3 separate regions of the Homo sapiens genome follow, and all the other regions are linked to region 1. Evidence: fine-mapped expression QTL. A gene starts in region 1. Each other region holds a variant in brackets. All regions are shown on one strand. Distances are between the middles of the regions. Region 1 holds the start of SHFL (shiftless antiviral inhibitor of ribosomal frameshifting). Region 2 overlaps DNMT1 (DNA methyltransferase 1). Region 3 has its middle 3.9 kb from the start of EIF3G.

The links. PIP is the estimated chance that this variant, and not a neighbour inherited with it, causes the effect.
Region 2: its variant is the best candidate, but not a certain one, in a credible set for the expression of SHFL in neutrophils (Naranbhai 2015, PIP 0.82).
Region 3: its variant is the best candidate, but not a certain one, in a credible set for the expression of SHFL in neutrophils (CEDAR, PIP 0.82).

The regions. Positions count from the first base shown.
Region 1 is chr19:10,085,011-10,087,766 of GRCh38, reverse strand. It overlaps SHFL (shiftless antiviral inhibitor of ribosomal frameshifting), which reads right to left and starts at 1,450. Exons shown (of 8, transcript NM_018381.4): 1 at 1,319-1,450; 2 at 715-838; 3 at 467-516. The coding sequence starts at 1,339. RefSeq lists silencers at 1,182-1,461, 1,532-1,751.
Region 2 is chr19:10,146,863-10,149,618 of GRCh38, reverse strand. DNMT1 (DNA methyltransferase 1) reads left to right here. Exons shown (of 41, transcript NM_001130823.3): 26 at 1-166; 27 at 602-735. Among named protein-coding and RNA genes, the nearest start is that of EIF3G, 28 kb to the right of the region's middle. The variant G/TG (reference allele first, on the strand shown) is at 1,503.
Region 3 is chr19:10,122,469-10,125,224 of GRCh38, reverse strand. No RefSeq gene overlaps it. Among named protein-coding and RNA genes, the nearest start is that of EIF3G, 3.9 kb to the right of the region's middle. The variant C/G (reference allele first, on the strand shown) is at 1,291.

The DNA.
Region 1 (2,756 bases):
CTAGCCTTTCTAGAGACTGCCACTAACAACCCTTCCCCACCTCCCAGCCTTTGCTTATGCCATTCCCTCCCCCACCCCAAGACCCCTGCCTTTCTTTCCCTTTCCCCTCCCAGGGCTCACTCCTCCCCATCCTTTAAGACTTGGTACCTCCTCCTCCAGTAAGCCTTCTCTGACCTCTGCGCCCCCGCTATGATGGCAATAATCCTGGCTCCTTTCATTGCTTAGTTTCATGGCTCTCTCCCCCATTGAATACAATCAGCACATAATGAGCGCCTACTGTTTGCAGGCTCCCTGGCCGGACAAATGATGGAGAGGTGAAAAAGTGAGATTGGGTGATGAGTTATGGACCGACAATGCCTGGTCCCTCCTGTTTCAGAGGGGGGTCAGTCACCATGAACGGGTCGGGTCCCCCCTCTTGCTCTCCCTCCCGTGACCCGGTCCTTTGCGAGGGGAGGGGATAGGTTACCTGGGCATCCAGATCGTTACTTAGTTCTTGGCCATCTTTTTGCTTTACCCCTGCGGGGGAGAGTGCATATAAGGGAAGGGCCCTTGAAGGGTCTGTGGGAGTTCCAGGCCACCCAGAGCCGCGACGCAGAGCCTCCCCAAGGCTGGGACCTCCGGGGGAGGTGATCTCAACGCCTCTCCCTAGACCACGCCCCCTCGGCGCTCCCACGCGCGGTCCCCGCACCAGGCCCGGGACCCCTGCAGCCTCACCGTACACGATGGAGCGCCCCACTCCCGTGTGGTCGCTGCCGAATTTCCTCATCAGAGCCCCCGCCTTCTTGGAGGATACCTTCCCATGAAACTTCTCCCGGAGGCGCCGGACGCTCTTCTCCAGCTGGGATGGAGACAGGGGGGTTCCGGTGGGGGAAGGGGAAACGGGATCATCCCTCCCCCATCTCTAGGCACCGTTCTCCCGGCCCGAACTTGACCCTTGGTTTTGGCCTCCGCCGCCCCCCCCCCGCCTTTCATCCCTTTACGGCATTTCCTGGAAAAAGCCAAAGTCCCCACAGGGCGTTGGGGGAAGGCGCGGACTGGGGCGAGCGTCCCAGCCTAAGGTGTGGGGGGGCGGCCAGGTTATCTCTGGCCTCTGACCTTTGACCCTGCAGCCCCCGCTTTTCCTCGGGGAGGCCTCATTTCGCTCTGGGGAAACGTGGGAGTCACTTTCCTTTTCAAGGGGGGCGAGCGCCAGGCAGGGGTAAGGATCTGGGGTTCTAGGATGGGGGTCCCCAGGAACTGCGAAGCCCCCTCCGCGCCTCCCGGCCGCTCCTCGGGGTCTGTCGCGGCTGACCCCGGCCCAGCCGTAGCCATCGCTTACCTCCACACCTTCCTGAGACATGGTGGCGGCGGCGCAGTTCCCCGCGAGGGTCCGCACTGCGCGGCTCAGCCGCCCCCCTACCTGGGTGCGCCCGTCGGTCCAGCAGCCGCGCAGGGCAGGGGGCGGTGCCTCGGGGCCGGCTCCGCCCTTCCTCCCCGGCCCCTGTTTCGCTTTCGATTCAGGGGGGACCCGGCGCGCTGGCTCCGCCCTGGCTCCGCCTCTGCTCTTGCGCCCCAAACCCAGGCGGGCGCCCCGGGTCTGCACCCTGCGGCGGAGCGCGCAGACCTCGGACGGGGGAGGCGGCGCGGCCTCTGCAGTCGGTCACATGTCCCCACGCTGCGCGGGGTCCGCGTCTTCACGTCCCTCGTGGGGGCGGGGCCGCATCAGAAGGCCGCGGCGAGGCCCCGCGCCCCCCCACCCAGCGCGCGCTCCCCCAGTTCATCACCCTCCTCTCTGTTCTCCCTCCTTCCCCGGGAATCTGGCGCTCATGAGGACCTGGGCCCTTTTCCTGCCCTGAGTCTCTGTCCTAGCTACGGTCACCTCTCTCAACCTCAGTTTACCCCTCTGTGAAATGGGGAGAATCCTGGTGTCTACACCATGGAGTGGAGTATGTGCCAAGATTCCCGAGTGGATCGCGTAATAGCGCCTGGCTTGCAGTAGGCGTTCAACTAGTCACTGGGCCACCTGCTGTGTGCCCTTGATAGGGGCAGGCAGTGTGTGTGTGGTTGGGGGGAGCGGTGCTTGAGAAAAATACAGATTCTTGGTCTCTAGTAGCCCGGTAGAATCCGGCTGTCTCAGGGATCCAGGGAATCTGCAATGGTTAAGAACCCCGTGGGACGGACAATTCTAACCCAGTACAGGGCACATCAGGGAGCCCTTAGGTGGTGGGGCTCTGGCCCAGCCTGGGGACACAGAGATGGCAACTTCATTGGAGGAGGGGATGCTTTGTAGAGTCACTGAAATTGGAGGTCTTAGCTAGGGGAGGAATAGAGTGGGGAGATGAGGCAGCCGTGCAGAGCCCCCAAAGCAAGACTAAGTCTGGGGTTTTTGGGCAATGGCTTCTCAAGCCCAGCACTCTTGACACTTTGGGCGGCCTAGTTCTTTGTGTGGGGGACTGTCCTGTGTATTGGGGGACATTTAACACCATCCCTGGCCTCCACCCACTAGATGCCAGTGGTTCCCTACTCTCCCTGTTGTGACTACCAAAAACGTCTCCAGAGACTGCCGGATACTCTCTGAGGAGCAAAATAGCATTGTGTTCAACGACTCCAAATTTTTTTCTCCATTGCACACCCCTATAGGTAAAAGTGTTAAAGTTACACCCCCAGATGGATATTTATTCATTTATTTATTTTTTGAGACAAGATCTTGCTCTGTTGCCCAGGCTGGAGTGCAGTGGTTTGATGGTGGCTCACTGCAGCCTCTAACTCCTGGGCTC
Region 2 (2,756 bases), 62 kb before region 1:
GTTTCACGCCCACTGGTTCTGCGCTGGGACAGACACAGTCCTCGGGGCCACGTCGGACCCTCTGGAGCTGTTCTTGGTGGATGAATGTGAGGACATGCAGCTTTCATATATCCACAGCAAAGTGAAAGTCATCTACAAAGCCCCCTCCGAAAACTGGGCCATGGAGGTGAGTGCCTGGTGTCCCTCGTGAGCCCCTGCCTTATCGTGGAGGGTCACTGCTGACGTGCGTTCTGTTTTGTTTTGATTTGTATTTTTTTTTAATTTGGTTTTTTTTTTGTTTTTTTTTTTGTTTTGAGACTGAGTTTCGCTCTTGTTGCCCAGGCTGGAGTGCAATGGCATGATCTCAGCTCACTGCAACCTCCACCTCCTGGGTTCAAGTGATTCTCCTGCCTCAGCCTCCCGAGTAGTTGGGATTACAGGCACCCACCATCACGTCCAGCTAATTTTTTGTATTTTTAGTAGAGACGGGGTTTCACCATGTTGGCCAGGCTGGTCTCGAACTCCTGACCTTAGGTGATCCACCCGCCTCGGCCTCCCATAGTGCTGGGAATACAGGCATGAGCCACTGCGCCTGGCCTGACACGCATTCTTATCTCCCAAGGGAGGCATGGATCCCGAGTCCCTGCTGGAGGGGGACGACGGGAAGACCTACTTCTACCAGCTGTGGTATGATCAAGACTACGCGAGATTCGAGTCCCCTCCAAAAACCCAGCCAACAGAGGACAACAAGTTCAAGTGAGCACTGGGGCTGGACTCGGGGTCAGCAGGCACTTTCAGCCCACATCACTCCCTTTTCCCGTGTGCTTCCGTCTGGTTGGCTTCCGCCAACGGCCCCCCAGTTTGTGTCTCTTGCTCGTCAAAGGCCAGCCTGACTATGAATGATGCTCAAGTGTGTAGATGGCCTGGAGTTGCTTTAAGTGTGTGGATGACCTGGCGTTGTCTTTGTAAGAGGGTTCCCTACCCAGGAACAGGGTTCGTCTTGCCATTTCAAGACTTCCCGTGTGTTCTTCAGTGTGTGCCCAGCTCTTGCATGTTTTTGGCTGTTTCTTAGATATTTTCTCCTGTAAATGAGACCTCTTATTTGATTCTTTTCTTTCCTTTTTTTTTTTCTTTTTTTTTTTTTGAGACGGAGTCTCGCTCTGTTGCCCAGGCTGGAGTGCAGTGGTGCGATCTTGGCTTACTGCAAACTCAGCTTCCTGGGTTCATGCCATTCTCCTGCCTCAGCCTCCTGAGTTGCTGGGACTACAGGCGCCTGCCACCACACCCGGCTAGTTTTTTGTATTTTTAGTAGAGACGAGGTTTCACTGTGTTAGCCAGGATGGTCTCGATCTCCTGACCTTGTGATCTGCCCGCCTTGGCCTCCCAAAGTGCTGGGATTACAGGCGTGAGCCACCACACCTGTCCTCGATTCTTTTGTAACTGGGTGACTGCTTTGAGGGAAGCTTTTATTTTTTATTTTATTTTATTATTATTTTTTTAATTTTTTTTTTTTTTTTTTTTTT[G/TG]AGACAGAGTTTCGCTTTTGTTGCCCAGGCTGGAGTGCAGTGGCTCAATCTTGGCCCACCGCAACCTCTACTTCCTGGGTTCAAGCGATTCTCCTGCCTCAGCCTCCTGAGTAGCTGGGATTACAAGCATGGGCCACCATGCCCGGCTACTTTTTTTGTATTTTTAGTAGAGATGGGGTTTCTCCATGTTGGTCAGGCTGGTCTCGAACTCCCGACCTCAGGTGATCTACCCGCTTCGGCTTCCCAAAGTGCTGGGATTACAGGTGTGAGCCACCGCGCCCGGCGAGCTTTTATTTTTTAATGTCCAATGCCCCATGCCTTCTTTTTAACCTCCGTACCTCACTTGTTTCAACTAAAAGCAGCAGCCAGCACCCCCAGAGGAGCAGGTGGCAACCAGGGAAACCCAGGAGGCCAAGAGGGCTCCCCGGGGGCATCTGTGCTTCTCCCATAAGTCTCGTGCTAGCTTTGGCTTGATCTCTATTTTCATTTTATTTTTTACTTTTTTGTGATGGAGTTTCACTCTTGTCACCCAGGCTGGAGTGCAGTGGCACGATCTCGGCTCACTGCAACCTCCACCTCCTGGGTTCAAGTGATTCTCCTGCCTCAGCTTCCCAAGTAGCTGGGACTACAGGCGCCTGCCACCATGCCCGGCTAATTTTTGTATTTTTAGTAGAGACAGGGCTTCACCGTGTTGGCCAGGCTGGTCTGGAACTCCTGACCTTGGGTCATCTGCTCCCTTCAGGCTCCTAAAGTGCTGGGATTACAGGCATGAACTACTGCACCCAACCTCATTTACTTATTTATTTATCACCCAACCTCTTTTATTTATTTATTTATTTATTTATTTATTTATCTGAGACAGGGTCTCCCTCTGTCACCCAGGCTGGAATGCAGTGGTGTGGTCACAGCTCACTGTAGCCTCGACCTGCTGGGCTCAAGTGATCTTCCTGCCTCAGCCTCCTGAGTAGCTGGGACTGCAGGCATGCACCACCCTGCCTGGTTAATGTTTTAAAAATTTTTTGTAGAGACGGGGTCTCACTGTGTTGGCCAGGCTAGTCTCAAACTTCTGGGCTCAAGCGACCCTCCTGCCTTGGCCTCCCAAAGGGCTGGGATTACAGACATGAGCCACCATGCTGGGCCTTGATCTCTATTTTTAAGGCCATCTTCAAGTCTCCTTTAAGGGCTTACTAGTCAAGAATAATGTTGAATTTCCTCAAATACCTGTTGAGCCTTTATGGAGAGAACAGTAGGAGT
Region 3 (2,756 bases), 37 kb before region 1:
CAGGCTGGTCTCGAACTCCTGACCTCAAGGGATCCGCCCACCTTGGCCTCCCAATGTGCTGGGATTACAGACGTGATCCACTGTGCCCAGCAGAAACAGGACCTTTAGAGAGAAAATTAAACCCAGGTGTGGTGGCTTATGCCTGTAATCCCAGCACGTTGGGAGGCCGTGGCAGGCAAACCACTTGAGATCAGGAGTTTGAGACCAGCCTGGCCAACTTGGTGAAACCCCGTCTCTACTAGAAATACAAAAATACAAAAATTAGCCAGGTGTGGTGGCACATGCCTGTAGACCCAGCTACTCGGGAGGCTGAGGCAGGAGAATCACTGGAACCCAGGAGGTGGAGGTTGCCATTAGCTGAGATTGCACCACTGCACTCCAGCCTGGACTACAGAGTGAGACTTCACCTTTAAAAAAAATAATTAAAAAAAAAAAGTTTAAATGAGGTCATTAGGGTGGGCCCTAATCCAATATGACTGATGTCCTTAGAAGAAGAGATTGGGACATAGACACACACAGAGGAGGCCACGTGAGGACCGAGGGAGAAGGTGCCCCCACCTCAGAAGAAACCAACCCTGCCGACACTGTGATCTTGGACTTCCAGCCTCCAGAACTGAGAAAATAAATGTGTGCTGTTTAAGCCTCCTAGTCTGTGATATTTTGTTGTGAAAATGTGAGAAAAAGTAACTAATGTTAAGCTGGGTTTGCTCAATTCTGCTTTCCAGCGTAATTTCACAAAGCCCCTGACTCTGAGACACGTGAGACACGTCTGCGCAGCTCTACAGAACAAGGCTTTGAAGACAAAACAGGACAGAGCACAGGGCACACCATGTCCCTTGCCCGAGTCACTATATTCCTTAAATGAGTCTGGGCACGGTGGTTCATGCCTGTGATCCCAGCATTTTGGGAGACCAGGGCAAGGGCATCACCTTAGCCTGGGGAGGTTGAGGCTGCAGTGAGCTGTGATCGTGCCACTGCACTCCAGCCTGGGTGACAGAGAAAGACCCTGTCTCAAAAAAAAAAAAAAAAAAAAAAAGGCGTGCCAGGTGCGGTGGCTCATGCCTGTAATCCCAGCACTTTGGGAGGCCCAGGCAGGCGGATCACCTGAGGTCGGGAGTTCGAGACTACCCTGACCAATATGGAGAAACCCCCGTCTCTACTAAAAATACAAAATTAGCCGGGTGTGGTGGTGTGCATGCCTGTAATCCCAGCTACTCAGGAGGCTGAGGCGGGAGAACCGCTTGAACCCAGGAGGCGGAGGTTGCAGTGAGCTGAGATCGCACCACTGCA[C/G]TCCAGCCTGGGCAATAGAGCAAGACTCCGTCCCCCAAAAAAAAAAGAAAAAAGAAAAAAAGGACCTGGGCCGGGCACGGGTGGGTCACACCTGTAATCCCAGCACTTTGGGAGGCCAAGGTGGGCGGATCACAAGGTCGGGAGATCAAGACCATCCTGGCTAACACGGTGAAACCCCATCTCGACTAAACATACAAAAATTAGCTGGGCGTGGTGGCGGGTGCCTGTAGTCCCAGCTACTCAGGAGGCTGAGGCAGGAGAATGGCGTGAACCCAGGAGGCGGAGCTTGCAGTGAGCCGAGATTGTGCCACTGCCCTCCAGCCTGGGCAACAGAGTGAGACTCCATCTCAAAAAAAAAAAAAAAAAAAAGGACCTGGTTCAAACCTTTTCCTACACATAAAATAACATCTAATGGGGTCAGGGTATTATGCTTCTGTAATCTATAACCAGATGTACTCTTGCACCCAAACCTTGATGTGGCTCACACCTGTGTAATCCCAGCACTTGGCTCATGGCAGCCTCACCTCCTGGGCTCCAGCGATTCTCCTGCCTCAGCCTCCTGAGTAGCTGGGATTACAGACATGCACCAACATGCTCAGGTAATTTTTGTATTTTTAATAGAGATGGGTTTTCACCACGTTTTCCAGGCTGGTCTTGATCTCCTGACCTCAGGTCATCTGCCTGCCTTGGCCTCCCAAAGTGCTGGGATTACAGACGTGAGCCACTGTGCTCAGCCTCTTTCTTTTTTAGAGACAGGGTTTTTGCTCTGTCACCCAGGCCAGAGTGTAATGGCACAATCATAGCTCACTGCAGCCTTGACCTCCTGGGCTCAAGCAATCCTCCTACCTCAGCCTCCCAGGTAGCTGGGACTACAGGCGTGCATTACCACACCCAGCAATTTTTTGTGTGTAGTGATGGGGTCTCAATGATGTTGCCTAGTCTGGTCTTGAACTCCTGGGCTCAAGAAATCTTTCTGCCTTGGCCTCCAAAACTGCTGGGATTATAGGCACGAACCACAGTGCCCAGCCAAGAAATATATTTATATGTTACATCTCACATATATTACATAAATGCATATTATATATTAATACATGTCCAAAAATAATATTTCCTTTCTTGGTGCCTTCTTTCCAAAGCATTCCTCATTAACAGGTTCTGATTCTTTCTTTCCAGGAAATGATTTGCATATATCTGCATATCTATGTGCTGTTGAAGATTTACACAAATTGGTTCCTGTAATATATGCCATTTTATATATCGCTTCCTCTTTTTTTTTTTTTTTTTTTTGAGATGGAGTCTTGCTCTGTCGCCCAGGCTGGAGTGCAATGGCGATTCTCCTGCCTCAGCCTCCCAAGTAGCTGGGATTACAGGCACCCACCACCATGGCCAGATTTTTTTTTTTTTTTTTTTGTATTTTTAGTAGAGACGGCATCTCACCATGTTGGCCAGGGGCTGGTCTTGAACTC